7 separate regions of the Homo sapiens genome follow, and all the other regions are reported to be linked to region 1. Evidence: microRNA targets listed by miRTarBase, many of them from high-throughput screens and not tested one by one. Region 1 holds a microRNA gene; each other region holds the end of a gene's coding sequence.
What was found. Region 1 holds the annotated microRNA hsa-miR-6844 (UUCUUUGUUUUUAAUUCACAG, at 1,753-1,773, shown strand). A microRNA usually pairs through its seed, bases 2 to 8, with sites in the 3' UTR of a target mRNA and lowers its output. Matches are read on the target gene's strand: a 7mer-m8 pairs with bases 2 to 8, a 7mer-A1 pairs with bases 2 to 7 and ends in A, and an 8mer does both.

Region 2: the mRNA of WDR26 is a reported target of hsa-miR-6844. Seed matches in the 3' UTR shown: 7mer-m8 at 2,060-2,066.
Region 3: miRTarBase lists ACAA2 as a target of hsa-miR-6844. Seed matches in the 3' UTR shown: 7mer-A1 at 1,539-1,545.
Region 4: miRTarBase lists DUSP8 as a target of hsa-miR-6844. Seed matches in the 3' UTR shown: 7mer-A1 at 710-716.
Region 5: miRTarBase lists YAP1 as a target of hsa-miR-6844. Seed matches in the 3' UTR shown: 7mer-A1 at 2,242-2,248.
Region 6: miRTarBase lists DCK as a target of hsa-miR-6844. Seed matches in the 3' UTR shown: 7mer-m8 at 3,134-3,140.
Region 7: the mRNA of RNF150 is a reported target of hsa-miR-6844. Seed matches in the 3' UTR shown: 7mer-A1 at 3,116-3,122.

The regions. Positions count from the first base shown.
Region 1 is chr8:124,506,220-124,510,287 of GRCh38, reverse strand. It overlaps MIR6844 (microRNA 6844), which reads left to right and starts at 1,712; the gene lies at 1,712-1,773. It overlaps TATDN1 (TatD DNase domain containing 1), which reads left to right. Exons shown (of 12, transcript NM_032026.4): 7 at 1,600-1,685; 8 at 1,774-1,814.
Region 2 is chr1:224,386,216-224,390,273 of GRCh38, reverse strand. WDR26 (WD repeat domain 26) reads left to right here. Exons shown (of 14, transcript NM_001379403.1): 14 at 414-4,058. The coding sequence ends at 439. Among named protein-coding and RNA genes, the nearest start is that of MIR4742, 10 kb to the left of the region's middle.
Region 3 is chr18:49,780,078-49,784,145 of GRCh38, reverse strand. ACAA2 (acetyl-CoA acyltransferase 2) reads left to right here. Exons shown (of 10, transcript NM_006111.3): 10 at 215-1,982. The coding sequence ends at 299. Among named protein-coding and RNA genes, the nearest start is that of ACAA2, 31 kb to the left of the region's middle.
Region 4 is chr11:1,553,092-1,557,159 of GRCh38, reverse strand. It overlaps DUSP8 (dual specificity phosphatase 8), which reads left to right. Exons shown (of 7, transcript NM_004420.3): 7 at 1-3,109. The coding sequence ends at 642. LOC124902608 reads left to right here and starts at 1,680. Exons shown (of 2, transcript XM_047427956.1): 1 at 1,680-2,211; 2 at 2,480-2,553. The coding sequence starts at 1,680. The coding sequence ends at 2,553. RefSeq lists an enhancer at 996-1,793.
Region 5 is chr11:102,229,691-102,233,758 of GRCh38, reverse strand. YAP1 (Yes1 associated transcriptional regulator) reads right to left here. Exons shown (of 9, transcript NM_001130145.3): 9 at 335-4,057. The coding sequence ends at 3,819. Among named protein-coding and RNA genes, the nearest start is that of BIRC3, 86 kb to the left of the region's middle.
Region 6 is chr4:71,028,664-71,032,727 of GRCh38, reverse strand. It overlaps DCK (deoxycytidine kinase), which reads right to left. Exons shown (of 7, transcript NM_000788.3): 7 at 1,814-3,376. The coding sequence ends at 3,350. Among named protein-coding and RNA genes, the nearest start is that of DCK, 37 kb to the right of the region's middle. RefSeq lists an enhancer at 3,450-3,950.
Region 7 is chr4:140,864,522-140,868,586 of GRCh38, reverse strand. It overlaps RNF150 (ring finger protein 150), which reads left to right. Exons shown (of 7, transcript NM_020724.2): 7 at 208-4,065. The coding sequence ends at 326. Among named protein-coding and RNA genes, the nearest start is that of TBC1D9, 110 kb to the right of the region's middle.

The DNA.
Region 1 (4,068 bases):
GTTTACTTTAGAGGTTATGGAAATAGTGACTGGTTATATTATCAAAATCTCTTTTTGTCCAAGTTGTCGTTAATATTTCCTACACTGCAAAATTTCAGCACTTTGTTAATGAAAGGAAAATATTTTTGCTTATTCTAACCCAGCAGAATCTGAAAAGGAGATTTTAAAACCCAAACATTTGGTAATACAGACATAGACGACCTATTTTAGGAAGACTATTTCTATTTTTTTAATTTTTAATTTTTTTTTTTTTTTTTGAGACAGAATGTTGCTCTCTCACCCAGGCTGGAGTGCAGTGGTACAATCTCAGCTCACTGCAACCTCTGACCCTGGGTTCAAGAGATTCTCATGCCTGCCGAATAGCTGGGATTACAGGCATGTGCCAACATGCCGGCTAATTTTTGTATATTTAGTAGAGACGAGGTTTCACCATGCTGGCCAGGCTGGTCTTGAACTCCTGCCCTTGAGTGATCCACCCGCCTTGGCCTCCCAAAGTGCTGGCATTACAGGTGTGAGCCACCACGCCCGGCCTGAAGACTGCTTCTTAAGAAGTACATTTCTATTTCTAATTTTAAAATTTAGCATTTTCAAGAGAGCAAAGGGGGTAAAATAGTCCTGCACATCAGGAAATATGATATAGAAAAATATAGCAAGAGAGGCTTAAGTTAAACAGAGAAATTGTTTCCCCAAATTAAAGTGCTTAGAAGAGGTAAGCACATTTAAGAAAATAATAAGCCACCTGTTATCCTGATTCAGTTGAACCTACCATTTGTGAGAACAAGGGGGAGCACTGTGTTGAAGTGAAAAGACAAACAGAATGAACATTCGTTGTATCCTCTGAATATTGTCATTATACTCCGGGACCAGAAGGAAGCTTCTTGAAAACGTAACAGGTTTTTGTCGTTTAGGCTGGGACTTGGAATTAGAGCAGTGAAGTTCTGTTCCAAGTTGGCCATGCCAGGTATTGTTATCTTGGACAAAGTACTACACCTCTCTGACACCAGCTTTTATACTCAGGTTATTTTGAGGATCAAATGAGACAATGGTATCTGGTACTTGGAAAAACCTTCTTATCAAGTACTCTTTAAGATATTCAGGGCTACCACTTTATCATGTAATTTTCTTTTTTTAATAGCATAATTGAGTTATTTGCTGTTTAGCAAATACTTAGATTTCATTTTTGAGGGAAACCTTGTTCATTTTGCCCAGTGGCAATAACTTCTTTTATAACAGCACATAAAAAACTGGTTGCAAAATGGAATAGATTAGCATGCAGTATGAAGCTCTCCTGGGCTTCTCGCTTGGTGAGTTGACTCCCACTGATGGTGCTCCCAGTGGCAAGGGGCCAGTGGTGTTACTTTCTGAAAATTAAAGGGCCCAGATAATTTTGTAAGCCCAGAAAATGAAGTATTTCTTTCCAGAAGTTGTAAGTTATAAAAGCCCTTTGATAAGCCTGATGTGCTTTAAATATTCATGATTTTTGTCCTGTAATTTCTAGAGAATTAAATACCTTTAATTTAAAAGCTCTTTTGACATCATTACCTTCCTCATGCTAAAATACAATTTGTAATGAGAATTTTTTTTTTTTGCATTATGCAGATATTTTGAAAAACAGTTTGAACTGTCAGAACAAACAAAATTACCAATGTTTCTTCATTGTCGAAACTCACATGCTGAATTTTTGGGTGAGTTAAAACCAAAGTCTCATTCAGAACTTAAGAATTTTGTAGAAATCAAGCTATTTGCTAAAAGTTCTTTGTTTTTAATTCACAGACATAATGAAAAGAAATAGAGATCGGTGTGTAGGGGGAGTGGTAAGTATAAAATAGTCATTTTTAATACAGGTTGAACATCTCTAATCCAAAAATCCAAAATACTCCCAAGTACAAAATGCTCCAAAATCTGAACCTTTTTAAGCACTGGCATGAGATAATGACACCTTTGCTTTCTGATTATTCATTGTACACAAATTTTGTTTCACGCACAAAATTATTTAAAATATTTACCTTCAGGGTGTGGTATAAGGTGTATGTGAAACATAAATGAATTTCATGTTTAGACTTGAGTCCCTTCCCAAAGATTTCTTTTTATGTATATGCAGATATTCCAAAATCTGAAAAAATCTGAAATATGAAACACTTTTGGTCCCACACACTTGGGATAAGGGATACTTAACATTTATGTGACACACAAAGCATCTTGGTTATTAAGGATGGCCCCTAATTCAGATGTCAACATTTAAATTTTTTTTAAAAAGGAATAACAAAGAAAAACATAGGAATTAGATAGAATTCAATAGAATTAGGAGCTTCTTTTCCCATCCTTTGAAAGACATGTAAATTTACTGTTGAATTTATGGACCAGGTGTGGCATAAACACAAATCAGTTTTAATTACAGTTCCTTTGTTCAAAGTACAAGAATGCGTACAGAATTCCATTCACAAGAAAACCCTGTGAAATTTTTTTTGTTTTTTGTGTGTGTTTTTTGTTTTTTTTTTTTTTTGGTTATTAAGAAAGGGTCTGGCTCTGTCATCCAGGCTGAAGTGCAGTGGCACAATCTCAGCTCACTGCAACCTCTGCTTCCCCGGGATCAAGCCATCCTCAGCCTCCCAAGTAGCTGGGACTACAGGCATGTGCCACCATGGCCAGCTAATTTTTTTGTATATTTTGTAGAGATGAAGTTTTACTATGTTGCCTAGGCTGATCTCGAACTCCTAAACTCAAGCAATCTGCCCACCCTGGCTTCCCAAAGTGTTGGGATTACAGGTGTGAGCCACTGTGCCTGGCCCTTGAATTCTACACATCCTAATGCTGTGCATGATATTCTTCGTCTCTTCTGTCAGCTGTTCTTTAATGTTCTTCCATCCAAATTTTGAGCAAATATAAACTAATTTTTATGTTTTGAAATATTTTACCATTTGTTTTAGGTTTGCCTTTCTCATTTCTTGTCCGCTGTATTCACCTACTATTCTGATCTAGAGAGTCATTCTCCTTTCTGTAATTTGCATTCTGCACTAAACACTTCTCTGATATAGCCATTTTAGTCATTATTCTGGAGACATTTCCCATAAATACTATCTGCTAACCACATACCTCCGATATCTATGGCAGTGATTTTTTTTTTTTTGAGATGGAGTCTCGCTCTGTCACCAGGCTGGAGTGGAGTGGCACAATCTCAGCTCACTGCAACCTCCGTCACCTGGGTTCAAGCAATTCTCCTGCCTCAGCCTCCCAAGTACCTGGGACTACAGGTGCACACCACCACGTCCAGCTAATTTTTGTATTTTTAGTAGAGACGGGGTTTCACCATGTTGGCCAGGATGGTCTCGATCTCTTGACCTCATGATCCTCCCCCCATCAGCCTCCCAAAGTGCTAGGATTACAGGCATGAGCCACCTTGCCCAGCCATGATTTTTAGTCTCTTCGATCATGGACTCCTTTGGAAACCTGCCTTAGAAAAATGCTCAGATATACATATATTCATATGCAATTTCAGGAGAGTGACTCAGTGAGTGACTGTGTCTAGCAAAAGAACTGTAATCCAGGTAGATTAAATCACAGTTACACTATGCCTGCTAAGGAAAGAGGAAATAGCACCAAGCACTTGCATTCCCATGCGGCCTGACGTTGACAGTTTTATGCGTATTCTCTAAGTTCAACCTCTGCCTCATCTATACTACTAGTAATATGTATGCATCCTGCATTGCTGTAATGTTAATATTACTGTGCACTTTTTTCCTGTTTGTACTAACTCTGTAATTTTTTCCTGTTTTTACTTACTCTGTAATTTATCCTGTAGGAACTGTACTTAAGAATTGAGAGGGGTTTTAGTTTTAACTAATGCCGTTGGGATTATTAGTGGTATTTATCCTAACCTTCAGACTCTACCTCTCAGCCCATTTGCTTTATTTCTTTTCTTTTTTTCTTTTTCTTTTTTTTTTTTTTTTTTTTTTGAGACAGAGCCTTGCTCTGTCACCCAGGCTGGAGTGCAATAGCACGATCTTGGCTCACCACAACTTCTGTCTTCCAAGTTCAAGCAATTCTTTTGCCTCAGCCTCCCGAGTAGCT
Region 2 (4,058 bases), not on the chromosome of region 1:
GTGGCATGTGCCTGTAGTCCTGGCTACTCAGGAAGCAGAGGTGGAAGGATCACTTGAGCCAAGGAGGCAGAGGTTGCAGTGAGCCCAAATTACATCACCAGCCTGAGCAGCAGAGTGGGATCCTGTCTCAAAAAAATAAAAGCATGAGATTCTAACATGATTATTCACTTGGGTTTCTTCAGTATTCAAAATCATGAATTTAGATCATAATATATGGTCTAAGACATGATACAGACATTGTTTTAATGAGTATGATGAAAGTTTCAAGAATTTGCTTTGATTTTTTAATGTTAGTATAATTTTGTAATGTCATAATGCTAATTTTGAAACTTTCTAACTGGTAATTTTTTTCTCTCCTTCCCCTCTTCCCTCCCCCGCCCGCCCCCCATACATTTCATCTTGTCTTCATTCAGAGGAATGCAGTAGCATGGATAGTTGATGGTGAATTTGGAGCAGACGACTTCTGTTTAACTTAAAATTAGTCGTATTTTAATGGCTTGGGATTTGGTGCAAACAAACATGATTGATAGCTGGACAGACATGCTCGTCATGAAAAAAGAACCATTTCTGAAGCCCGATTGGGGCCAAACATTTACACCTTGCTTCATAGTAACCAGTTGAGATGAAGCACGTCGTTAGAACGTTGTTGGACACCATGTTGAATTATTCCCCCATCGGTTGTGAAGAACTGTGCTACATTCAGGCTTACCCATTGAACTCAGTATATATATTTTTTTCCTTCCTGTCTTTTGTCTGGCAGGATACCATTCTTGTTGCTCTTCTGTGTAATGAAGTTTAAATGCTTGTTTGGAAAACTTTATTTAACAGTTTAGAAGGCTTGATAGAAAGAGTGCATTAGTCTGAAGAGTATACATTGGATAGGAAAGAATTTCCTTCTTTTGTTTCTCCAAATCTTTCCGCCTTATTTAGCTTGAGATCTTTGCAGCTTGGTTCATGGATTCTAGCCTTGCCCGTTGCGCAGTATATACTGATCCAGATGATAAACCAGTGAACTATGTCAAAAGCACTCTCAATATTACATTTGACAAAAAGTTTTGTACTTTTCACATAGCTTGTTGCCCCGTAAAAGGGTTAACAGCACAATTTTTTAAAAATAAATTAAGAAGTATTTATAGGATTAAAGTGACTTCATTTGTATACATTTGGAATCTAAACCAGCTTAAAAACAGTTTCCTCAATGACTTAGATACACAGTATAACTGATGCTCTTCTGGAATACCACATGAGACATGGTCAGAAACAGTGCTTGGAAGGACATTACACAAGAAATTCAGAGTAATGCTTTGAAGATTTCCCCCCTTTTGTTTTATTCCTGAAGGAACATCAGTACCCGATCTTGAAGAAATTCAAGATTCAAAAAGAATTTTAAATACACCAACATGAGACATCAGTAGTCAGTTGGTTTTCAGTAAAGCTTGTTCCAAGTTGTTCTCAACTTAGGAAGTAATTTTGGTGTGATCTAGCAAAAGAGTAGGAATCAGCGATACAACCACTTTGGAAGTTTATAGTATAATTGAAATTATTAGAAGAATTCAGCAGGTTACAGACATACTTAAACTGGGATTAAAACCTCATAGTCATTTTTCTTAATTGCCCTTAATATTTTGACATATAGGGATACATAAATTTAAAGAATATTTTTTCTCAGTTTTTTCAGATATTGCCATACTGAACCTCATTCTAAACTGGTGCTGTGGATAGTCTTTCCCTCTCCCCTCCTGTTTTAGTTTAAGGAAAGGTTTCCTTCATGGAAAAGCACTTTTAATTTTGAGAATTTCACATTTAAAATAAGCCAAAAGCCTGATGTTCACATTGTGCTTTTAAACTCCGTAACAGCTGAATACAACATAACATAGTCTCCCTTGAAATTCCCTCCCTTTTTCAGTAGAGGATAAATAGGGTGACTCCAGCTGTTGGAATGAGAATGGGGATACCCCCAAAATAAGATTCTGGTGAAGAAAAAGTCTTGTACTAAGTTCCCCTTTAGGTGTAGCCAAGTCTATAATATAATTATGATCATGAATAGACTCCAGAATCCACAAAGAGAAGAGGGCTTGGATGTCAAAAATTCTTCCATTGTGGGGTAGGTGGTCGGGGATGGGAGAAAGGGAAAAGTCAGGGAAGGGGAGAAGAAAGAAAAACACATTTGGCCTTAAAATAGCATGCATTCTCCCAGAAGCCCATAGTAAAGAAAATGACAGATCGTGGTCAGCAGACTCTTATCAAATTGGTATGTAAAAGATTTCTTCAAGCTCCATTTTGCAGAGACCACCACTTAGAGAATCAAAAAATTCCTGTTTTGATACTTCTAAGTTAAAATATATGTTACAGTTTATCTGGTACTTCATTTTTCTTAACTAAAATTACTTTTTACTTTAAGCTTGAATAAAAATCTTCATTGGTAACTGTATGTAATTAAGTGGCAACTTCTCTTTACCTCAGTATAGTTAAAAACCATTCATATTTTAAGTGATTCATGTATACCCTGAAGCCGTTAATACACCCCAGTCTCTATGGTAACATCACTAAATGTGGGCATAGAAACTCCACAGCTGTTTACAAATTTGGTTACAGTGTGCTACGGTGCATTTGTAACACTCAGATTTGTGCCCATTCAGGGGCAATTTGGCACTCAGATTCTACTCTACTTCACCTAACCACCCCTAGATCTGAGTTTTCAGAGTGCTTCTGAAGTACAGTTTAAAAACACTTTTTAAAAAGTGGAGTAAAAGTGAGGCACATTTTACAAGAACATAACTCCTATTAAAACGGAGTAACAACTATGCAAAGGTTTCTATAGCAGCTAGGTGAGTTTGTTTTCCGGGTCTGTCTTAACTGGCAGCTTCCTGTACATACTGGTACTTATTTGCTGTAAACGTCTGTTTCATACATTTGCCATGCAGTGACTGTGCTCGAAAGGTGAAATCAATGGTAAAGAAGCCTAGGATTTTATGGTATGAGAAACTGATCGCAGGATTTTCTGATCCATAGCTATTAATTGAAAACTTCTGATAGTGCTGTAGGCTCTATAGTAGGCTTAAGAGTGAGTCTTATACTATGAAGCCAGCCACAAGATACTAACAAATGTATAAATTGAAAAGTACCAATACTTTTTGCACATAGATCAAAATAGAGTGGAGAATTTGGGCTCCAAAAATCAGGTTAGTAGGCTCATTTCCATGTGCTTAAAAATGTTTTTGTTGTTATGCATTGATTAAGGGCTAGAGCAAATATAAAATTAAATGTCTTTTTCCTCCAAATAATTGGTTATTAATGGTAAAATGTTGGACTTGGGGATTACTGAGATTAGTATGTGGGTAGTAAAGAATTGGAGTGGGAGTTAGTGGGGAGGGATGACAAAGCTTCAGCTTTGGTTTTTGTATTTTTTTAGTCTTCATAACAGCTACATTTCTGTTGCTCTTATTGGCCAGATAAATGTGTTATATTAAACCAGGTAAGTATTTTAAACAGAGAACATTTTATTTGCATATATCCCTACAAATTGGCCCATTTTATTGGGTGGGGGGATAAAAAAGGGATTCCCTAACTTTAAATAATCAGAATATCCTGCAATTGAAAGGAGAAAAAAATCCAATTTTGTCAGTATTTTCTTAGTCTGAAAAAAACAGCAGTAGTAATCTGGTGAATGTTATTATTAGGAGTGTTCTGCCTCTACAGTGGCATATTCCATGACATTAATAGAAAACCCTTCTTTCCCACCCCTCCCCATCTTGACATTTTCTTTTTTAGGATGTTGGTTCCTGCAAACAAGAACTGACCCTATCACCTCTGCCTCACAGTGGGTAAATATATCATACATCTCTTGAAAGGGAAAATATCCATGTCAGTTTCTTTCACAGTAGAAGAATGGCTGCTTTTGAATGGGGAGGAAAGAAGACATTTTTCTTAATATCCTTTTTGTCCCATCTCTAAAATGTATAAATATTTTGATTTGGTTTTACTTTAATTTCTCATTCATAATTTCGCAACTGTCCTTTTGGGTTGCCCTCCAACACATTACTTCCATTTCAGAAACC
Region 3 (4,068 bases), not on the chromosome of region 1:
GTTTTTGTTCTTTGTTTTTTGTTTTTTTTGATTAAAAACTTTCAGCTTTCCAAAGTCTGTTGCCTGTTGTAATTATACCAAAATTGAGGACTGGGGAAAAGATTGAGCAGATGAGCTGAATAAGGATGAGTAATGCAGATGTGATGTTATTAGTTCTATTTCATTAATCTGATTTTTTATTAGAGTAGATTTCAGTCACTGCTTTCTTTTTCAGGCGTCGAGGTGGAAAATATGCCGTTGGATCAGCTTGCATTGGAGGTGGCCAAGGTATTGCTGTCATCATTCAGAGCACAGCCTGAAGAGACCAGTGAGCTCACTGTGACCCATCCTTACTCTACTTGGCCAGGCCACAGTAAAACAAGTGACCTTCAGAGCAGCTGCCACAACTGGCCATGCCCTGCCATTGAAACAGTGATTAAGTTTGATCAAGCCATGGTGACACAAAAATGCATTGATCATGAATAGGAGCCCATGCTAGAAGTACATTCTCTCAGATTTGAACCAGTGAAATATGATGTATTTCTGAGCTAAAACTCAACTATAGAAGACATTAAAAGAAATCGTATTCTTGCCAAGTAACCACCACTTCTGCCTTAGATAATATGATTATAAGGAAATCAAATAAATGTTGCCTTAACTTCAGTTAATATTTTCCTGTCATTTATATTTTTAAAAATTTTAAATTGTGATAAGATACACATTACATAAACTTTACCATCTTAACCCTTTTTTAGCGTACAATTCACTGGTATTAAGTACATTCACATTTTTATACAAACATCCCCACTTTTTATCAACAGAACTTTTTCAGTCACCACACATGGAAACAATAACTCCTGATTCTCCCATCCCCCATCCCCTGACAACCACCAGTGTATTTTGTTTCTATAAATTTGATGACTCGAGGTACCTCATAAGTGAAATTATAAATATCTGTCCTTTCGTGACTGGCTTATTTTACTTTACTTTATATAATGTTCTCAAGATTCATCCACCTTATGGTGTAGCATGTGTCAGAATTTCCTTCTTTTTAAAGGCTGAATAATATTCTGCTGTGTGTATAAACCTTACTTCCTTCTTCCCAGCTTAAAGGCCATCTTTCATCCTTTATTTTCTCCCTTTAAAATGCCCCCACAACACTTCCATTGCTTTATTTGTCTGTTCTAAGACTGGATATCTAGTAGGGCAAGGCCCTATTCTTGTTAACTTCATCAAAGAGCCACTGGAAATTTTAATTAAGATTAAATTGAATTTATGGGTTATACATTTATTGGGGGGAAATTTTTTTTTTTTTTTTTGAGACAGAGTCTCGCTCTGTCCTCCAGGCTGGAGTGCAGTGGCGCGATCTCAGCTTACTGCAAGCTCCGCCTCCTGGGTTCATGCCATTCTCCTGCCTCAGCCTCCCCAGTAGCTGGGACTACAGGCGCCTGCCACTACGCCCGGCTAATTTTTTGTATTTTTAGTAGAGATGGGGTTTCACCGTGTTAGCCAGGATGGTCTCGATCTCCTGACCTCGTGATCCACCCGCCTCGGCCTCCCAAAGAAGTGCTGGGATTACAGGCGTGAGCCACTGCACCCGGCCTTTTTTTTTTTTTTTTGAGATAGCATCTTGCTCTGTCACCCAGGCAGAATTGCAGTGGCACAGTCATGGCTCACTGAATAATAGATGTTAAATAATACTAGATGTTAAATAATAGTATCATAAGTACCTACACTGTTTCCTCAACCCTTTGCTTATATGGTTTCCTTCATTTGATTAAAAAGCTGAAGTGGCACATACATCCCCCTTTCTGTCATAGAGAGGCAGATGACAAGCGGCCTACCCACGGTTTGGGATAATGGACTAGTGGCAACAGGCAAGTCCAGCTTTTATTGTTTGGGATCCTTACTGAGAAGCAGCAGGCTTCCTCTACTGTCATAAAAATATTAAAAAGTAAGAGCCCTGTATAATTTCTCATAATAAAACAATGTTTTGCAGAACATTTTGTTTTTTACATATTCTTCGTTTGTTGTAACTTATAATAAACTTTCTCTGGGATGAAATGACCAAGGTCACATGTTACCATCTTCTAGAAACACTAGTGATAGTTTATCAAGCCTATGAATTTCCAGATGAAGAAGGAATTGTCGCCAATAGCTGAAGCAATCCGCTTCCCAGGGCATCTCCTGGCACAGGCCTTGGTAAAGGTTTATCGCTTTTCCCCATAAAGGTCTTGTGTAGTTTTGTTATCCAACTGAGACCTTTTTCCTATTTTCTTTTACATTTGATTATTGCTAATGAATAGCTTTTGGATATTATATATCTAGCCAGCTTGTGGAACCCTTTTATTAATTTGAATCATGCAGATAGTATCTCATTTATTTTTATTGCCTTTTTGCCTTGTGCTGAGACCACTGGCGCAGTACTGGAGGAAATAAAATGTGGTAATGCTCATATTCGTTCCTCACTAAGTTGATGCTTACAGTAGGTTTCTGATAGATAATGCTTTATCAAGGTCAGGAAGTTTCCTTCTATTCTTAGTTTTCTTAAGGACTTTATGAGTGGTTCATTCATTCTTCACTCTAATCTTACTTGGCTGCCACCACTTAAGCCACAGTTCTCTTGCTCATGCCACCCTTTATGTTCATATTGCCAGAACTAGTGGAGATCTTTCTGTCTTCACCTTATTTGACTTCTCCAAAACATGACCCAGTTGACCACTCCTCCTTGAACTGACTTCTGTTCATGTCTCTGCTTTTCCACTGCCTCTCAGGCCATTCTTTTTCATCTTCTTGGGCAGCTGCTCCACTGCTGTGAGTTTCTTGGGATTGGTTTTTGGATTTGTGGCGATTTCTTTCTATGATTCTAAATACCATTACATTTGGCTGGGTGCAGTGGCTCATGCCTGTAATCCCAGCACTTTGGAGGCCAAGGCCAGAGGATCACATGAGCCCACGACTTCAAGACCAGTCTGGGCAACATAGTGAGACCACATCTGTACAAAACAAAAAACCAGAAAAATGAGCTGGGTGTGATGGCATGTGCCTGTAGTGCCAGCTGCTCAGGAGGCTGAGGTGGGAGGATTGTTTGAGCCCAGGAGGTTGAGGCTGCAGTGAGCCGTGATTGGGCCACTGCACTGAAGCTTGGATGACAGAGTGAGACCCTGTTTCAAAGTACATACATATATACATACATAATATATCATCACATTTACATCCCAGCACTGGTCTCTACCTCCAGACTGCTGTAGCAAACTCCCGTCTTGACTTTTCTCACAGATGTCTTCTTAAACATGCCCTGAGCAGTAACTTTTATCATATCCCACTTAACCAGCTCCCTCTTCAAGTTCTTCTCAGTGCCAGTAGCTCAAGTCAGAAATCCAGGCATTTCCCTCAGTTCTACCCTCTCCCTCACTCTTCATCTCCAGTCTATCAGCAAGTATTATCAGTTCTTCCAAGATATAGCTCAAATACATCCATTTCTTCCCCTCTCCACCTCCACTACTGTGGTCCTAAGCCACCAGAATCTCTTGCCTGGACAACCACAAGAGCTTTTAGAGGCTCCTACCTCCATTCTTACCCCTCTTCAGTCATTCTCTAAGAAGCCACCAGGAGCATCTTTTAAAAACTCAAACTATGGTGACTCTAACGTGATCTCAGGCCACTCCTCTAGCTCCCAGTGCTTCAGACAAATGGCCTTTCTGGGGACGGCTTGCACACCATGCTCTTTCATGCCATAGGGCTTTGGCAGATGTTCTTTCCTGTGCCTTCCTGGGCCTGGGTCCCGCTCACCAAGTCTCAGATGCTTCCTCTTCAGTCAGGTTCTCTGTTCTGTTCACCCTAAGTTCCTCGCCCTGAGACTTTCCACTGTAGCACCCTGACCTTTATGGAACTTTCCTGAATTCATATTCACTTAGTAGTCCATTTACTGTCTCACTCCCTCATTAGACTGTAAACTCCATAAAGGCAAAGACTTCATGTGTTTAGCACAGCGCCTGGCACATGGTAGATGCACAATAATGTTGTTGATGGAATGAGTGCTTGGATGGATGGGTGAATGGATAGATGGACAGATGATGTTTGAAGAAA
Region 4 (4,068 bases), not on the chromosome of region 1:
CCCCCCGACCCCGGCGAGGCCCCGAAGCTCTGCAAGCTGGACAGCCCGTCGGGGGCCGCGCTGGGCCTGTCCTCGCCCAGCCCGGACAGCCCGGACGCCGCGCCTGAGGCGCGCCCACGGCCCCGCCGGCGGCCCCGGCCCCCCGCCGGCTCCCCCGCGCGCTCCCCCGCGCACAGCCTCGGCCTGAACTTCGGCGATGCGGCCCGGCAGACTCCGCGGCACGGCCTCTCGGCCCTGTCGGCGCCCGGGCTGCCCGGCCCTGGCCAGCCGGCCGGCCCCGGGGCCTGGGCACCGCCGCTCGACTCCCCAGGCACGCCGTCGCCCGACGGGCCCTGGTGCTTCAGCCCCGAGGGCGCACAGGGGGCGGGCGGGGTGCTGTTTGCGCCCTTCGGCCGGGCGGGCGCCCCGGGACCAGGCGGCGGCAGCGACCTGCGGCGGCGGGAGGCAGCGAGGGCTGAGCCCCGGGACGCGCGGACCGGCTGGCCCGAGGAGCCGGCCCCGGAGACGCAGTTCAAGCGCCGCAGCTGCCAGATGGAGTTCGAGGAGGGCATGGTGGAGGGGCGCGCGCGCGGCGAGGAGCTGGCCGCCCTGGGCAAGCAGGCGAGCTTCTCGGGCAGCGTGGAGGTCATCGAGGTGTCCTGACCCCTCCGCTGCCCTCGGCCCCGCCGCCCGCAGCCAGGCCCGTTATAAATGTATATTATATATAATGCAAAGAAAGGTAAATGGTTTTACTGGGATTTTTATCGAGAAGTAAATATTTCGATTTTTTATTTATTTAAGCTGTTCATTCTGGCAATGATTTGGCAACAGTGCGGGTGGTCCTCGAGCTCTATTTTTACTGTCTGGTATTTAAACTGAAACATACGTTTCTAAGCAATACGAGGCCACCTTCAGTCGCAAGCTGGGTGCCAGGCCTGGGGCCCCTCCCAGTTCCCCCGCCCCAGGAAACACTGCTGACCTTTGCAAAGGCTGCCGAGCTTTCGTGCACTTTTTACATAACAAAAAGGTGAAAAAAAGGAAAAAAAAACTTCTTTGCCACAAACTGAGCCGCAGAACCCCCCTTCTCCCCCCACCCACCTCCCCTGCTCCCTCCCTTCTCTGCGCCGGCCTAGGGCTCTGCACCAAAGCCATAGGATGGAGGAGCAGGAGCTGGTGTGCCCCGGAGAGGTGCGGCCAGCCCTCCATCAGCTCCAGGCACCAAATCTTGGTGGCAAGGAGGGCACCCCGCTGCCCGTTGCCCCAGAGCTGTTCTCTGGCAGGGGAGGACAGGCATTGGGCTTCATGGTGCCAGGGTGTTCAGAGGGGCTGAGAAATAGAACAGTGTGTGTAGGGGCTTCGGGCAGGGGGTTCTGGAACGTCAGATGAGGTGCAGCCCAGGGGAGGACAGAGGTGTTAGTGCCCCCAACTCCTGCCAGAGCCCCAGTCCAGCCACAGAGTGGCTCAGAAAGGCCATTCCTAGAGGGCTGCGGCCCTCCCTTCTCCCTTGCCCATGCCCCCAGAGCTGCCTGCCGGGCAGGGTGGCACCATTGCAGGAGAGGAGCTTGGCCTCCGGGGGTCAGGCAGGAGGCGCCTGGCTAGCCAGTGCTGGCTCCACTGGGCAGGAAGCCCTGGACCCCCAGGTATGAGGAGGGGGTGGTCTTAGGGTTCTGTTCCAGGTCTGCCCCGCCCCCCTCCCAGCCATGCCCCAGGCAGAACTTGGAATTCAGGTGTGCACCTGCAGGCTGAGGGGCTCTGTGAGCAGGTGCTGCTCACACAGGGAGTTCAGGCGCCAGCCAAGCCCCTGTGCTGCTGGGATAGGCCTGCTTCACTTAGGGAGCACTGCCTCAAGACAGGTAAAGCCCCCTCGTTTGCCCCCACCCCCATGGGGCCGCTCAGGAGAGAAACTCCCATTCACCCCTTTCCCAGGGTGCTCTCTCTCTAGGTGGCATGCCAGCCCCCAAACACAAGTGGCTTTTGGGCCCAGGTGGGTCAGCCTGCTGCCCCTGCCCCATACCCCCTCGGGCCATTGGGACCCCTGCCCTTCAGATGTCCTAGGGTCTAGGAGTGGGGCCAGTCACTGTGGGAAGAGGCCAGGGGCTTGGCCGGAGAGGCAGCCCAGGGCAGGACCCAGTCCTGAGTCCTGGAGCAGGGCCAGGGAGGCGCCCATCCCGCCCCAGCCAGCCGCCCTCTCTGCTGTTTCTTCTATTTGTTCTTCTTTTCACCCACAGCTCTGTGTTCCTGTCATCCCTCCTTTCAGCAAAAGTCCTGTTCCCGTTCCCTCTGTCCCCACCCACTCCTGTTCCCCCAAGAAAATAAGCTATCGTTGTATTTGCAATCTATGGATTAGAGGTTTAAGTATTTATTATTATTGGTTAATTATTATTAATTATGTAAATTTGCCTCCCATATGTCTGTTGCGTTGGGTTTCTGAGGAGACCCTGGGTGAGGAGGATGCACTGGCTTCCCGCTTCTCGCCCCCCACCCCTGTGCTGTCCGGGAGACAGTGGTCTGGGGCCACTGGTTGGGCCCCCTTCTCCCTTCCCCCTTCCCCTTGTCCCTTCTGCAGGCCGTTGAGGGGGGCTGTCTGTCTCAGTCTGTCTCTGCTCCCACTCTTGAGGCACTGGTTACCGCAAAGTGAGCAGCCAGCAGGGGGGCGAAGGTCCTGTGTTGGCCACTGCCTCCTCCAGTGCTGCAGGAGGCGGGCTGAGGCCCCACCTGGTGGCTTTCACCTGACCCAGCCCTGAGTCCTCTCCAAGCCTCTCTCCGGCCCCTCCCACCTGGCCACTGCCTCCTCCAGTGCTGCGGGAGGCGGGCCAGGGCCCCACCTGGTGGCTTTCACCTGACCCAGCCCTGAGTCCTCTCCAAGCCTCTCTCCGGCCCCTCCCACCTGGCCACTGCCTGGCATTGGGATCGCCCCAAAATGGACCCGGCCCCTCCTGTTATTTGCTGGGAAGTCCAGCGGAGGAGAGGGTGCAGGTCCCCCGCTGAGCCTCCAGTCTCTGTAGACTGGGCTGCCGGCCCTTCAGCCCCCCTTGGAGCCCCTCCCGCCACAGCCGCACCTTCTGCTCCCGGCCCCTCCCTTTGTATTTGGAGACAATGTGTTGTAATAAAGCTTAAAGTGGATGTTTTCCCCACGACTCCGCGCCTCTTCCTTCAGACTGGTGGTGGGCAGGGTGGGGGCAGAGGCTGCTGGGAGGCAGGCCTGAGGCCAGAGCCTGGTGTGTTGGGTCTGGAAACTTGCCCCAGGCTCACACCGCGGGTGAGCTCTGAGAATAGTCCCTGGGGGCCAGGCATGGGCACAGGTCCTCAGCTGCACCTTTAGGGTGTAAAACACACTTTTTCAGTTGTTACAGGCTAGTAAAAGCTTAAATAACTTAAAACGATATAAAACCTCAGTGTTACCCACCAGTCCCCTCACTCCCACAATCCCAATGTGAACAGTTGGATGCTTCCCTCCCAGCCCCTCCATGTGTGCTGTGTGCTGTGTGCATGTGTGTGGGTGCATATACGTACCAGCAGAAATAGGGGTCTAGCTATATATAGTGTCTCCAACCAGACTTTTTTTTTTTTTTTTTTTGAAATGGAGTTTCGTTCTGTCATCTAGGCTGGAGTGCAATGGTGCGATCTCCGCTCACTGCAACCTCCGCCTCCCCGGTTCAAACAATTCTCATGCCTCAGATTCCCAAGTAGCTGGGATTACAGGCACGTGCCATCACACTTGGCTAATTTTTGTATTTTTAGTAGAGATGGGGTTGCACCATGTTGGCCAGGCTGGTCTCAATCTCACTGACCTCAAGTGATCCGCTTGCTTTGGCCTCCCAAAGTGCTGGGATTACAGGTGTGAGCCACCGTGCCTGGCCTCCAACCAGCTTTTCAAATCTTAAGTAATGTGCATGTCATACAAGGATTAAAAGCACACCAGGGTATGTGGTAGAAAGTACTGGTTTGTCTCCCCCAGGCTTGTCCCCAGCCTCCAGGGTCCTCTCCCTGGAGGCAGCCCCAGCCCGGCCTGCAGAGCCCCGCCTCCCCCCCCCCCACCCCCCACCGAGGGCAGACCTGGCTGCTGCAGGTGCCACAGGCTGCAAAGAT
Region 5 (4,068 bases), not on the chromosome of region 1:
ACAGTGCCATGTTCTTATGTTCTCAGTGTCCTCTGTGCCGTCACATGTAGTGAAGTCATTTAAGAATCAAGCAGACGCAGTTCTGCTTAGACACTACCACGGATGAGGATGGTGTATGTGAAGAGTAAGAACACAAAGTTAAAAGAATTATATATCCATACTTCAAAAGTTCCAAATGTCAAGCCTAACTTAAAGCACAACGAAACTTAAGTTTAACTTGTCTTCCCAGTTACTACTGTAATCACCTTTTATTGCCAGTTCTTGTTCTATTGGAAGACCAGTAAGAAGCCAAAAAAAAAAAAAGTTTCAAATATCAATTGTTAAAAACAACAAAGAAGAGTTTAAGGAAAGAATATATTTGAACCACATAAACAAACAAAAAGGTATTACATAAGAAAAAATAATGTAACAATTTATGTAAGTACCTAACATATGAGCATGCTCTTACATCTAAAACAAAAAATAAAAAGGTAACATTGGTACTATATATATATATTTGACAAGTGTGCATTAAAGAATTCTCTAATATAAAACATTTAAAATGTGGAGAATACTTTTTCAAGATACAGAAAACAATTGTTATGATAGGCACACCCACAATTCTTATAACAACATGCTTGCGAGGATAAAATCCACCTGAGCACTCATTTCTCAGATGTACCAACGCTAGAAAAGTGTTAAGCACTGAATATTGCCACCCACTTTTGCAATGTTTGAGTTTCAACACTGATTGGTATGAATTCTGAATTACACAATTAATTACTGTTATTTTTCAGTCTTTCTGCCATGTTCCATATAGAAGGCATGTATTTAATATGAATACTTAACACAGCAACATTATTTGTAGCAAAGTCACTTCCCTGTGTTCATTTTTCCTTTAAAGGCACTACATTTAGAAAAGTTATTACAACAAATAGTGCTTTGGAAGATCTGAAACTCCAAATCAATGTGCTCCATCAACCATAAGTAGATCTAAGAAGCCCTGACTGAAAATAACACAAATGTAAAAAGTTGATAAATTTAAAGATTATAAAATTGGTTTATTGTAAAAGCAATTCAAGAATACCCAGTTAAAATCTTATCCCAATGCTACCCAATACAACCAAGAAGCAGTTAAGCACTTTTACATTAGGAACAAGGACATAAAACAAGAGACCACATCAAGGCTATGATTCAAACTCAAAAAGGGAAAGGACTCTTAGGTCTCCTTCAGGTCAGTACAGAGGGCATCGTAAGATCAAAGCACTGTGCCAGGTATCACAGTACTGCTACAACACTGAGGTATAACTGGGCAAATTAAAGTTGAGGGGTAAAGGAAGATCTCCATATTCATATTGTTTTGTGGGTGTACTTAGGTGACTGAAACTCTAGAACAGCTGCCTTTAATGGCAGCACGGTGTAAGACAAGTCTTTATTAAAGAGAAAGAAGTTTATAAAGTTCTCTATCAAGGTCCCCCTAAATCTTCACAACCCCCCCCCCAAACTTTCCCACCCTCCCCCTAAGCTAAAGCTAATCTGCTGATATATAAGATATAATCTTAATCTGTGGCTACTGGCAAATTATAGGCACTCCTTCCAAGTAGCTTTGATCTTCTGCACATTAAAAAAAATCCCAACAACATGCTATGTAATTCATATACCCAATTTTGCATTCTAGGTAGAATTTCATTACTACTCTAAAACTCCATCTGCAGTGGCCATTTCCCCCCAGACTTAATTCAAGATTTAATCTTTCTGCTGTTTTCTTAATAAAAGCCTTAGAGTCAATTATTATGAGTGATCAACCTATGAACTATTATATACAACACAGTGATTGCATTTTTTTGAGCACTGAAAGTACTTAAAATAAAACTTCTTACTTCCAACTTTTGCCCTCCTCCAAATTGAAGGGCCAAAATACTTAGATTTTGTAATTGGGGGGAAAAAAATCTATCTTCCCAAGCTGAGGCTTTTCATAGCAGCTTTTGCCAGGAGAAGAGATTTTATGCCTGTTATGAACCCTTGAAAATAAGGGCTTATTCTAGAAACATTGAAAGACCCTTAAAACACAGAGGTGCTAGCTGGTGCCACTTTAATTCACAACCAACTATTACTTCATAGCTTATATTGAAGAGTTAATTCATGCTCGTTTTGTTCCTTTAAAAAATACTCTTTGGAAACCATTATTACTCCTGTAGACACATACTCTAGTTACATCATCTCTTCCTGTAAAAATAAAGGTATAATCATGATTATCTCTATTTCTTTGCTAAATTCAACTACCAATATACATTTATTAATCTGATCACTTTTCCAGCTAACTCAAAACCTTATAGTATTCTATCCAGGGTCAATTTTCAGCATAGAAGTAGGAGCAAGTCTTGTAAGTAAGAACAATCTTGAAGGCAATATTTTAATCTAGTCGTTAATGTGTTCATTACAAATGAGAACTACAAACTAGAATTTACTTCCAAAACTAAGGCAAAGAAAACTTCCAAAGCTAAATGAAGGTAAACCACTATAAAGCTTATTTCTGTCATGCACATTATGAACCTACTCACTGAATTCCAATCGAGACTTAAAAATTAGTCCAAGGGAGAAAATAAAGCCATTTCTGGTTTGCTCCTTTCCAATTCATCAGATAATATCTACCGTATGCCCAGAGGGCGTGGAGCACTCCCCTAGGCACTATCCACAGTAATAGCTCTTTCTAGAACACTAAACTACTTCAAACATCTGCAGACTGCCCCAACCAGATTTAAACTACCAGTGAAATATAAACTACTAGTCATGTATTCTAAATGCATACAAAGCGCTACCATTTTAAAAATTAACTGGAAAGCAGGGAAACCTAAAAAAGGATACATTCCACTACCACACTATTATAAATGTTATGTTTGGGTGTGTGTATGTATATAAAAGAGAGAGCAGATAATCGAGATTTAAATAAGGTGGTAAAAAAAACCAGGAAATGAAGATTTTACCAAAACAACTACAATAACCATCCCAAGCTACAACTATTAACAGATTCACTAATATGGTCATTTGCCTAGGTTCCGACAAAACCAACCAACCAACCAACCCCCCCACCGACCCTGCCAAAAACAAAAAAAACAAAAAACCCAACAAAACAGAACAAAATGCACACCCACAAAATTATCCACCAAAATCTATATTAGAGTATGTGGCAATAATTAATATATTTATATGGAAATTGTCTCATGCCTTATAAGCTCCTAAAATAAAATCAAGGTCATTATGTGACTAATGATAGCACTAGGAGGAAAAGAAAATACTGAAAGTAAAACAGTCTTCAGCCTTGGTTTCAGCTATCTCTTCAAATCAGCATTAAGTATTTAATATCAGATATAACATTTTTGGCTTGTCAGACCAGTAAATCATGTTTTTCCACTGGACAAAGGAAGCTGAAGAAACAACTGTTGAACAAACTAAATGCTGTGACATGAAGCATCTGACTTCTAAGTCTGAGTATTTAGTTAAAATGATTGGTGAACATTTAACTGGGCAAAAGGAATGGCATCCATCATCCAAACAGGCTCACTTCCCCCAGCCCCCAAAATGAACAGTAGTTTTAATAGCAAAAGAAATAAAAAGTTTTTTTCTTTTGATTCTTTAGAGCCAACTGTGAAAGAGGTCAGCAATACATTAACAGCAGCAATGGACAAGGAAGAGCAAAATAGAGGATTAAAGTATCTTGCTGGACGTTTGTTCATCTTTTTCTGTATTAGCCTGAAAACTGCAACTGGCTTATGGAAATTTCCGGTGCATGTGTCTCCTTAGATCCTTCACAGATTTAGAATTCAGTCTGCCTGAGGGCTCTATAACCATGTAAGAAAGCTTTCTTTATCTAGCTTGGTGGCAGCCAAAACAGACTCCATGTCATTAAGGATGTCAGAACTCAAAGCTTCCTGCAGACTTGGCATCAGCTCCTCTCCTTCTATGTTCATTCCATCTCCTTCCAGTGTTCCAAGGTCCACATTTGTCCCAGGAATGGCTTCAAGGTAGTCTGGGAAACGGTTCTGCTGTGAGGGCAGGGTGCTTTGGTTGATAGTATCACCTAGTGGAAAC
Region 6 (4,064 bases), not on the chromosome of region 1:
GGAGGGACAAATGTGTAAAAGAATGCCTAGACATCAGGCACCTCAGACCATTTGCCCATTTTTCAACAAAAATTATCTAGATCTTGTAGGATAGACAAATTGAAAGTGCCATTCTCCGGCCACCTGGAACTACTGTTGAGTTTGTATTGGAGCCAAGTGGTACTGCAGAAGAAAATAAGGCATTTAAGTTTTAGGTCAGGTGTGAGTTGAAGAGGTTTTAAGTTCTTGAGAACACAGGCTAAGGGAGAAGGGGGAATGGAGGGCGGAAGGTTGCCCATAGTGAAGGAGGTAAGTTTAAAGAGAAAGGTAGAGACACGGGGAAGGGGGTGGGCGAGCAGCCCGGGGCTGCAATGTGGGTGAGCAACCAAAGCAGACGTCCCCGCAATTGACTTGCCACCAAGGGAATGTGGGTGAATCACCAAGGCAGGCTCCCTGCAGTGATCAGACACCAATGAAATGTGGGTGAATAATCAGTCAGGCGTCCCCACAGTGATTAAACACCAAGGGAAGACTGTCTTCCTGAGTCCATGACCGGCGCCGGAGTTTTGGGTCCATGGATAAAATGTGTCTCCTTTGTCTCTACTAGAGAGGAAAAAGAACTGGAATTGGAAGGACAGGGAGATTGACGAGACAGGCTGGAGAAGAGAGTGAAAAGACCGCTTACCGGATTTGAAATTGGTGAGATGTTCCTTGGGCTGGTTGGTCTGAGGACCCAAGGTGGTAGGTGCATCTCTTCACAGAGTGAGGGTGAGAACAGGGGACTGGTCTCCCGAAGGAGTCCCTCTGACTCGGGTCTTTGGCACCAAATGTCTCTCGCGTCCGTGTGAAGAAACCACCAAACAGGCTTTGTGTGAGCAACAAGGCTATTTCATCTGGGTGCAGGCGGGCTGAGTCCGAAAAAAGAGCCAGCCAAAGATGCTTTAAAGTTTATGAATTAAAGTAAGACATAAAACTGGTAAAATCCAAATTAGGTCTGTAGTTTAGTTAATAGTAGTACACCAAATTTAATTGTTTTGATAAAATATTATTGTTAAATAAAGTTATCATTGGGAAATAACTGAGTGACAGGTAAACAGGAACTCTGTAATATTCTTGCAACTTTTATGAGTCTAAAGCTATTTCAAAAAAAGCTTTTAGCGCAGGGCACAATGGCTCGTGCCTGTAATCCCAGCGCTTTGGGAGGCCAAGGCAGGATGATCACTTGAGCCCAGGAGTTTGAGACCAGACTGGACAACAATACCCCATCTATACAAAAAATAATTTTAAAAAATTAGCCATCATGGTGGTGAAAGCCCTGTAGTCCCAGCTACTTAAGTGGCTGAGGCAGTATTGCTTGAGCCCAGGAGTTTAAGACTACAGTAAACTATAACTGCGCCACTGTACTCCGGCCTAGGCAACAGAACAAGACCCTCTCTCAAAACAAAAAAAAAAAAAAAATTAAAAGAAGAGGTAAGTTAGTCAAATGAAGAAGGCTATTATTTACCAGACTTAATGTTGCAATGTATCTAGCATTTTTCAAAGGCAATAACATCTATATCTCTATTTTAGAAACATTTTACAACTCTGTTCTTTAACATATGACAGACTTAAGTTCTAGGTGGCTCGGTATAAGTTTCAAGTTTTAGGCATAGCAGAAGAGAAAATTCTGGATGAGAAAAATAAGTCTTGTATTATTAATTACCTTTCTAGGAGAGCAAACTATAAAGAGCAATAAATAAATTCTAATGGAAGACATGATATAGGTAATAGATCCAAGAGATAATCCAGACCACCATTAGGCTCAATTCTATTATGACCACCACACTGAGACAACTTTTGAGTCATGACAAATAAATAATAAATTTTTATTAGCGTCTTTTCAATTCTACAAATTTTAAAAGTCATTATACATTTTTAAAGGTTACTAAAAATCACTGAAATATGTCTCCACTTAAAATGGAATCAAAGTAATTTATACAATTTTCACCTTTAATATTCATAATTTATTTAAAAGTAGAATAAATTTTAATTCTAAAATGATTATTACATCTTTTTAGAACTGAAATTACATTTCAATGAGTGTAGCTCCACTGTAGTTCATAAGGTTTATACTTAAGAAATATTTAATTAACAAATTAATTTATACCAAACAAAAACAAACTAAAAAAATGCATACGTATAATGAGACAGTTTATGTATGGTAATTACAGATTTGAAATTAAGTCTCCTTTGCAAAGATCAGTGCGTCTGGACTGGTTAATCCACTAAATTATCATCTTTGAATAAGAAACCAAAAACAAAAATGACTTGGAAAGAAAAATAGTAGTTTAAAAGTGAAAATGACTCTTCCCCTTATTTTAAAATACATAAAATTTTCTAAAACGTAAAATGGAAAGGTTTAATACACAGGAAAAACACTGCACACCTTAACTAAACAAACTAGAAAGAAAATATATTTATATACAGAACTAAGATGAGTCCATTCATTATTTTTACAAATATTCACATAGATGGTTTAGAGATAAGTAGTTAAGTGTGTCTCATTAATTAATGGATGCTTTCTAGCCTCTGTCTTCATTAATTTTATTTCCTATTCAACAAAAAATAATGCTTTCAGGATATATTACATATAGAGCAATATCATTTTTATCAGTAATTTGTCTGAAAAAGAGAAAAACTTAAAAGCAGAACCCTACAAAGCAAAGCAAACTACAAAGCAAAGAGTAATCACAGTGTTTGCAAAATAGAAATGTGTGACTTTAACTTTATAGCAGGCTGCCTAATTAATCCAGACAGTAGAGAAAGCAGACTGAGGCAGGAAGTAAGAGGTGGGACTAAACTGTTAAGAAGATAATAATTTAAAATAAAACTTCAGAATCCTTATTCTAGGGATTCCTTTAATTCCACTTTGCAACTTTTAATAGGTACACTAATTTACACAGGACACACTACCATTTACTATGTAACATTAAAGCTTTCAGTTTAAGAAACTGGTCACCAACGAAGTGAGAGGCACCAGGGAAAAAAGCCAACCTGCTGAGGAAGACAAAAGAGGGGAATGACAGAAGGAAGCTGGATCTTTTATAATGTAGTTTAGTCACTATGCTGATACTGGAACCATCTACCTCTACATTTCCTGCTATGAGAAATAATGTCTTTGTCTTTAAATGTCTTTTTTAAAAAAAAAACAAAAGAAAAGAAACTGGTCAAAAAGTTTTGCATAAGATTCATTTTAAAAATCTTTTTTCCTTAAAACAAAAACGATTAAAAACTTGGGTTTTCTAAAGAAACTTATATTAATATGAAGTTACGAAGATACACAAAGCTGAAGTATCTGGAACCATTTGGCTGCCTGTAGTCTTCAGCAAGATCACAAAGTACTCAAAAACTCTTTGACCTGAGGAAAGGAAGAAAAAAAAATCAGTATAATTCCTTGACTAATTTGAGGTATCTAATATTCATCTTCATTTAAAAGTATATAATAGTTGAAGACCCCAGCTGTATAAGTAACTACCACAATGCCATTGCATTTACTTTCCAAAGAAATATTGTTAAGGCCGGGCGCAGCGGCTCATGCCTGTAATTCTAGCATTTTGGGAGGCCGAGATGGGTGGATCACTTAAGGTCAGGAGTTTCAGACCAGCCTGGCCAACATGGTGAAACCCCCCATCTCTACTAAAAACACAAAAATAGGCCAGGCGCAGTGGCTCATGCCTATAATCCCAGCACTTTGGGAGGCCGAGGCGGGCAGATCACCTGCGGTCAGGAGTTCGAGACCTGCCTGACCAACATGGAGAAACCCCTTCTCTACTAAAAATACAAAATTAGCCGGGCATAGTGGCACATGCCTGTAATCCCAGCTACTAGGGAGGCCAAGGCAGAAGAATCGCTTGAACCTGGGAGGCAGAGGTTGTGGTGAGCTGAGATCGCGCCATCGCACTCCAGCCTGGGCAACAAGAGCAAAACTCCGTCTCAAAAAAAAAAAAAAATTAGCTAGGCATGGAGGCGTGCACTTGTAATCCCACCTACTTAGGAGGCTGAGGCAGAACTGGTTGAACCTGGGAGGTGGAGATGGCAGTGAGCCA
Region 7 (4,065 bases), not on the chromosome of region 1:
TTTTATTATTCTAGTTTCTTTTGTTTGCATTTAACTTTTTGGCCCATGTGAGATGAGGCTTTAACTAGAGTTTTTACAGAATACCCAATTTTTCTAATACCTTCTCTTGGCCTTTAAAGAAATGTTATTACAAGCAATTGTACTGAAATAAGCAGCATGCAAAGACATAGCTCGGTGTTCACTGTGAACTTTGCTTTCTCCTCCCAGGTGAGCAGGAGCCAGCTGTAAGCAGTGATTCTGACATTTCCTTGATCATGGCAATGGAGGTTGGACTGTCTGATGTAGAACTTTCCACTGACCAGGACTGTGAAGAAGTGAAATCTTGAAACGACAAATCCAGAAGCAAAGAGATAGTAGGACCCAAGGGAAAGGAAGGGAAGAGTGCTCCAAGACTTGGACCAGGCACACACACACCTCCAGATCACCTTGGCAACTCCAGGGCGCTCCGTTCAAGAATGCTGACGAAAAGCAATATCCAAAGTCTTGTCAATCAGGATGCAGTTTCTCCATCGGTATGGCAGTCTGTGGCCTTGGCAGCTGGGAAGTTGAAAGCTGATTTCCACTCCTATGTCCATGTAGACATACACTTCAGAAGCTCCTAAAACAGAGACTGAAAGGCCACCTTTAGGATTTCTTAGTTTCATTTCAATTCTTTCCATGTCTCATCATTCTTGTTTTTGGCATGTTGTTTGATTTCTTTGGCAATTTTTTTAAAGATTATTTGTAGTTTACTTTCCATCTATTCCTTTGTTTTTCCTTTGATGCACTCCAGCTTTTGTATAGGTTTCTGTTTAGAAGCACCAGTTCCTGCTATGATCAGTTTGTATTCCATCTCTGAGATATGTGGTCTTGACCTCCCAGCATGAAGTGTGCATGGCTTTGAGAAGTGCCTCAGCACCCTGAAATGGACTAAGGCCAGCTTTCATTAAGAATCTAAGTTCTTCTAAGTGGGCCTTTAAAAACCCCAGCTGCCAGAGACCCCAACACTAAGCCCTAAATCTGCTGAGGCCACTGCTGGTTATTTTAAGCCACATCACACTTGCTTCCACTTGCCGGGCTTGATTAAGGGCCCACGTGACATGAGAAGGGAGCTCTAGGGAAGCCGTTTCATTCTTCTGGGTCTTACAGTCTTTGGCTGAAATTCTGAACTCAGAAGTCCCCTCCAAGGCATCCAGTCTTTGGTGGTTGTAGGGCTGGTTTTAAAACCAGATACCACATTTTCTTCCTATTGAAAACAAAATGCCAGTTGCATTGGTTTCCCCTGGGCTAGAACAGTTTTTTTCTTACCTCTGTAAGTGGGTTCTGTAAAAAATGGAGGCTTTAGAGAAAAGCCAATCATTTTTAAGTCCAATGGCAAACATAGTGGGGGCTGCAGTAGCACCTAGCTTTTACCTTAATTTCGACACACTTCTGTTGAATCTCACCAGACCATGTGGGAGGATTTAGGTGAATCCCTAGCAGATTGCTTCCCAGGGCTCCCTGAGTGTGTCCAGATACCAAGTGAGGAATGAGGTGTGATTTGCTGTATCATTTGAACCAAAAAGTATGCAGCATGAGAATTTGCTAGATCGTTTATCCTGACTGAAATAGACAAAGTAAGAGGGAAAGGAAAAGAGGTATCAAGTAAATACTGAAACCCAATGGTGTTTTTAAACTGTTTCTGTTTTTATTCATCTTTTGTAACTATGACAGAAATGTGCTATTTTTTCAGTGGGCAATTTTGTAATATATTCAGACTATCCAGATACAGAGATGACTAAGGTCATTGATAGCGTCTCTGAACAATCAGACGGATCACCTTATCTCTACACAGCTGGCAAACACCAGGCTGCGGCTTGGATTAACCAGGAAAGAAAGCTTTTCTCACTGAGTTGTTTTTATGTATTGATGGGGACTTTTCCACCTCATTAGACTAATACTCATTCAAAAAGAGTTTGGTTCTGCTGTAAATCCTTGCCGCCTGCTGAAACATGGTGTGCAGGTCAACGGAGAATACTAGCTGCTCCTTTTTCACCACCTTTACCAATTTCCTATTTGATGGTTTGTAAGTAGACAGTAAGGCAAGGCAGATGATTATTACCCTCAGAAAGGTTGCATCTCCCTAGGAGTCCAATGCTTCCTGTAATGAAATCCACTCTCTATGTGTGGGAAAAGAGGCAGGGAGGAATGAAGAGAGCTCTGAATCGAGAATCCTAGATGAACCACACGCTTTACTAAGCCTCGGCTTCTTCATCTATAATGTGAAGGGTTTAATAACATGAGTCCCCAAGCTCCTCTGGCTGTGGGACCACAGATGAGTCTTTCAGAGGCAGGATCCATTTTTGCAGATAGCTATGACTTGTGGCAATCAGGCTTCGTAGCTTGGGGAGGTAGAGTTACTTGACATGTATCATGTAATAACAGCCTTTGAGACTTGGCACAACTATGGTGCTGAGAATGAAAATCTAAATGATTGAAGTTTTAAGTCCAAGTAGGAGTTGGTTTGTTTTGCCTTGTTTAAAAATTGCTGTTAGTCACAGAGTTTGCAATCTCTGGATACCTTCAAATCCTAGCTCTCACTGTGGGATTCTTGATCTCAGAGGTGTTTATTTTTCACAGTCAGCATAGGCTTGCGCCACTGACTCCTCCTTCAGTCGGCTTTGCCCAAAACAAATTTTAGTATTACTGGTATTAAGTTTAGTCCAGTGGAATTAGAAGGATAATTCAATAGCAACAGAAATATAAATTATATTCCATTCCCAGAGAGAGAATGCGCTTTGGATTGTTTAGTCCTCTGATTAACGAGTATTTTCTCTTCCTGCCAAGAACTAGGTGAATCAGGAATTGATTGCATATGCAAGCCCTGGCCACAGCTGCACTTACAGGATGCCTCATAGACGATGAGGGGTCTGAAAGGCCAACCCGAGGCTGGCAGATCTGACCCCAAGGAGGTCCTGCTGCAAACCCCCTGAGCCTTTGCCATTCACTACTTACCAAAGTTTGTTTCTGGAGGATTTTCCTGTAGCTTTGATAGTTTAAAAAAAAAAAAAAAAAGAAAAAAAAAAAGCTTAACCAGAAAGTTTCTCTTTCAGAAGAAAGGGGAACAGCCCTTCCTTATAGCCTTCTTTACCTCCCCCAAAGAAGAGACTGACCTGGAGACCTGGTAGTCTACAGATGAGTGTCAGAGGGTGTGTGTACCCTCTAGAAGCAAATGCAGACTGTATGTGTATTTGCAGATGTGCATTTTTCTATAGCAAGAGTCTAGACTAGCACTGTCCAACAGAAACGTAATGCAAGTCACAGACATAATTTTAAATTTTCTACTAGCCACATTTTAAAGTGTAAAAAGAAACAGGTAAAGATAATTTTAATCATGTACTTTAACCTAATATTGTTTCAACATGTCACTAATGTAAATTAATGACATGTTTTACATGCTTTTGTGTACTAAGTCTTCTAAATCCATTGTGTCTTTTACACTCACAGCACCTCTCAATTTGGATAGTCACATGTGGCTAGTGGCTGCCAATTGGACAATGCAGGTCTAGAGTTCCTCCAGTATTCTCACAAGATCCCCCGACCCTTACAAAAGAAAAGAAGGTTAAAAGCTTAATTACCTCCAGGGAGAACTGGACACCACCCAAGTCGCCTAATGAGAGGCCCAGAGGTCCATTTATTTTGTAGTGAATAAAGATTCAGGCACCCTTTTTAAAATTTCTGCTTGAACTTTCTAACCATATCATTGATGTCCATGACCATTTGTTGTTACTCCTCTGACCAGTTGTTACTTAAAACTCACACAAACCATGCTGATTTGGTGCTGAAACAAAATTATACCCCTCACTTCTATGGCAAACCCTCGGACTGATATGTGGCACTTAGGAGCCAAAGAGAACTCCAGACTGAAATCACCCAACTTTACCTCAACCCCTTCTTCTTGTTCATGGTTGGTGAAAGTCCTTTCCCAGTGTCCCCCAGTCCCACAGCTGTAGTGAAAACTCACGAACTTGGGAGGAAAGAATGAGAAATGCAAGACTTTATGTGGCCTTCTTGAAAAAGAATCTTTGGGGGCCTGTGATCATCCGG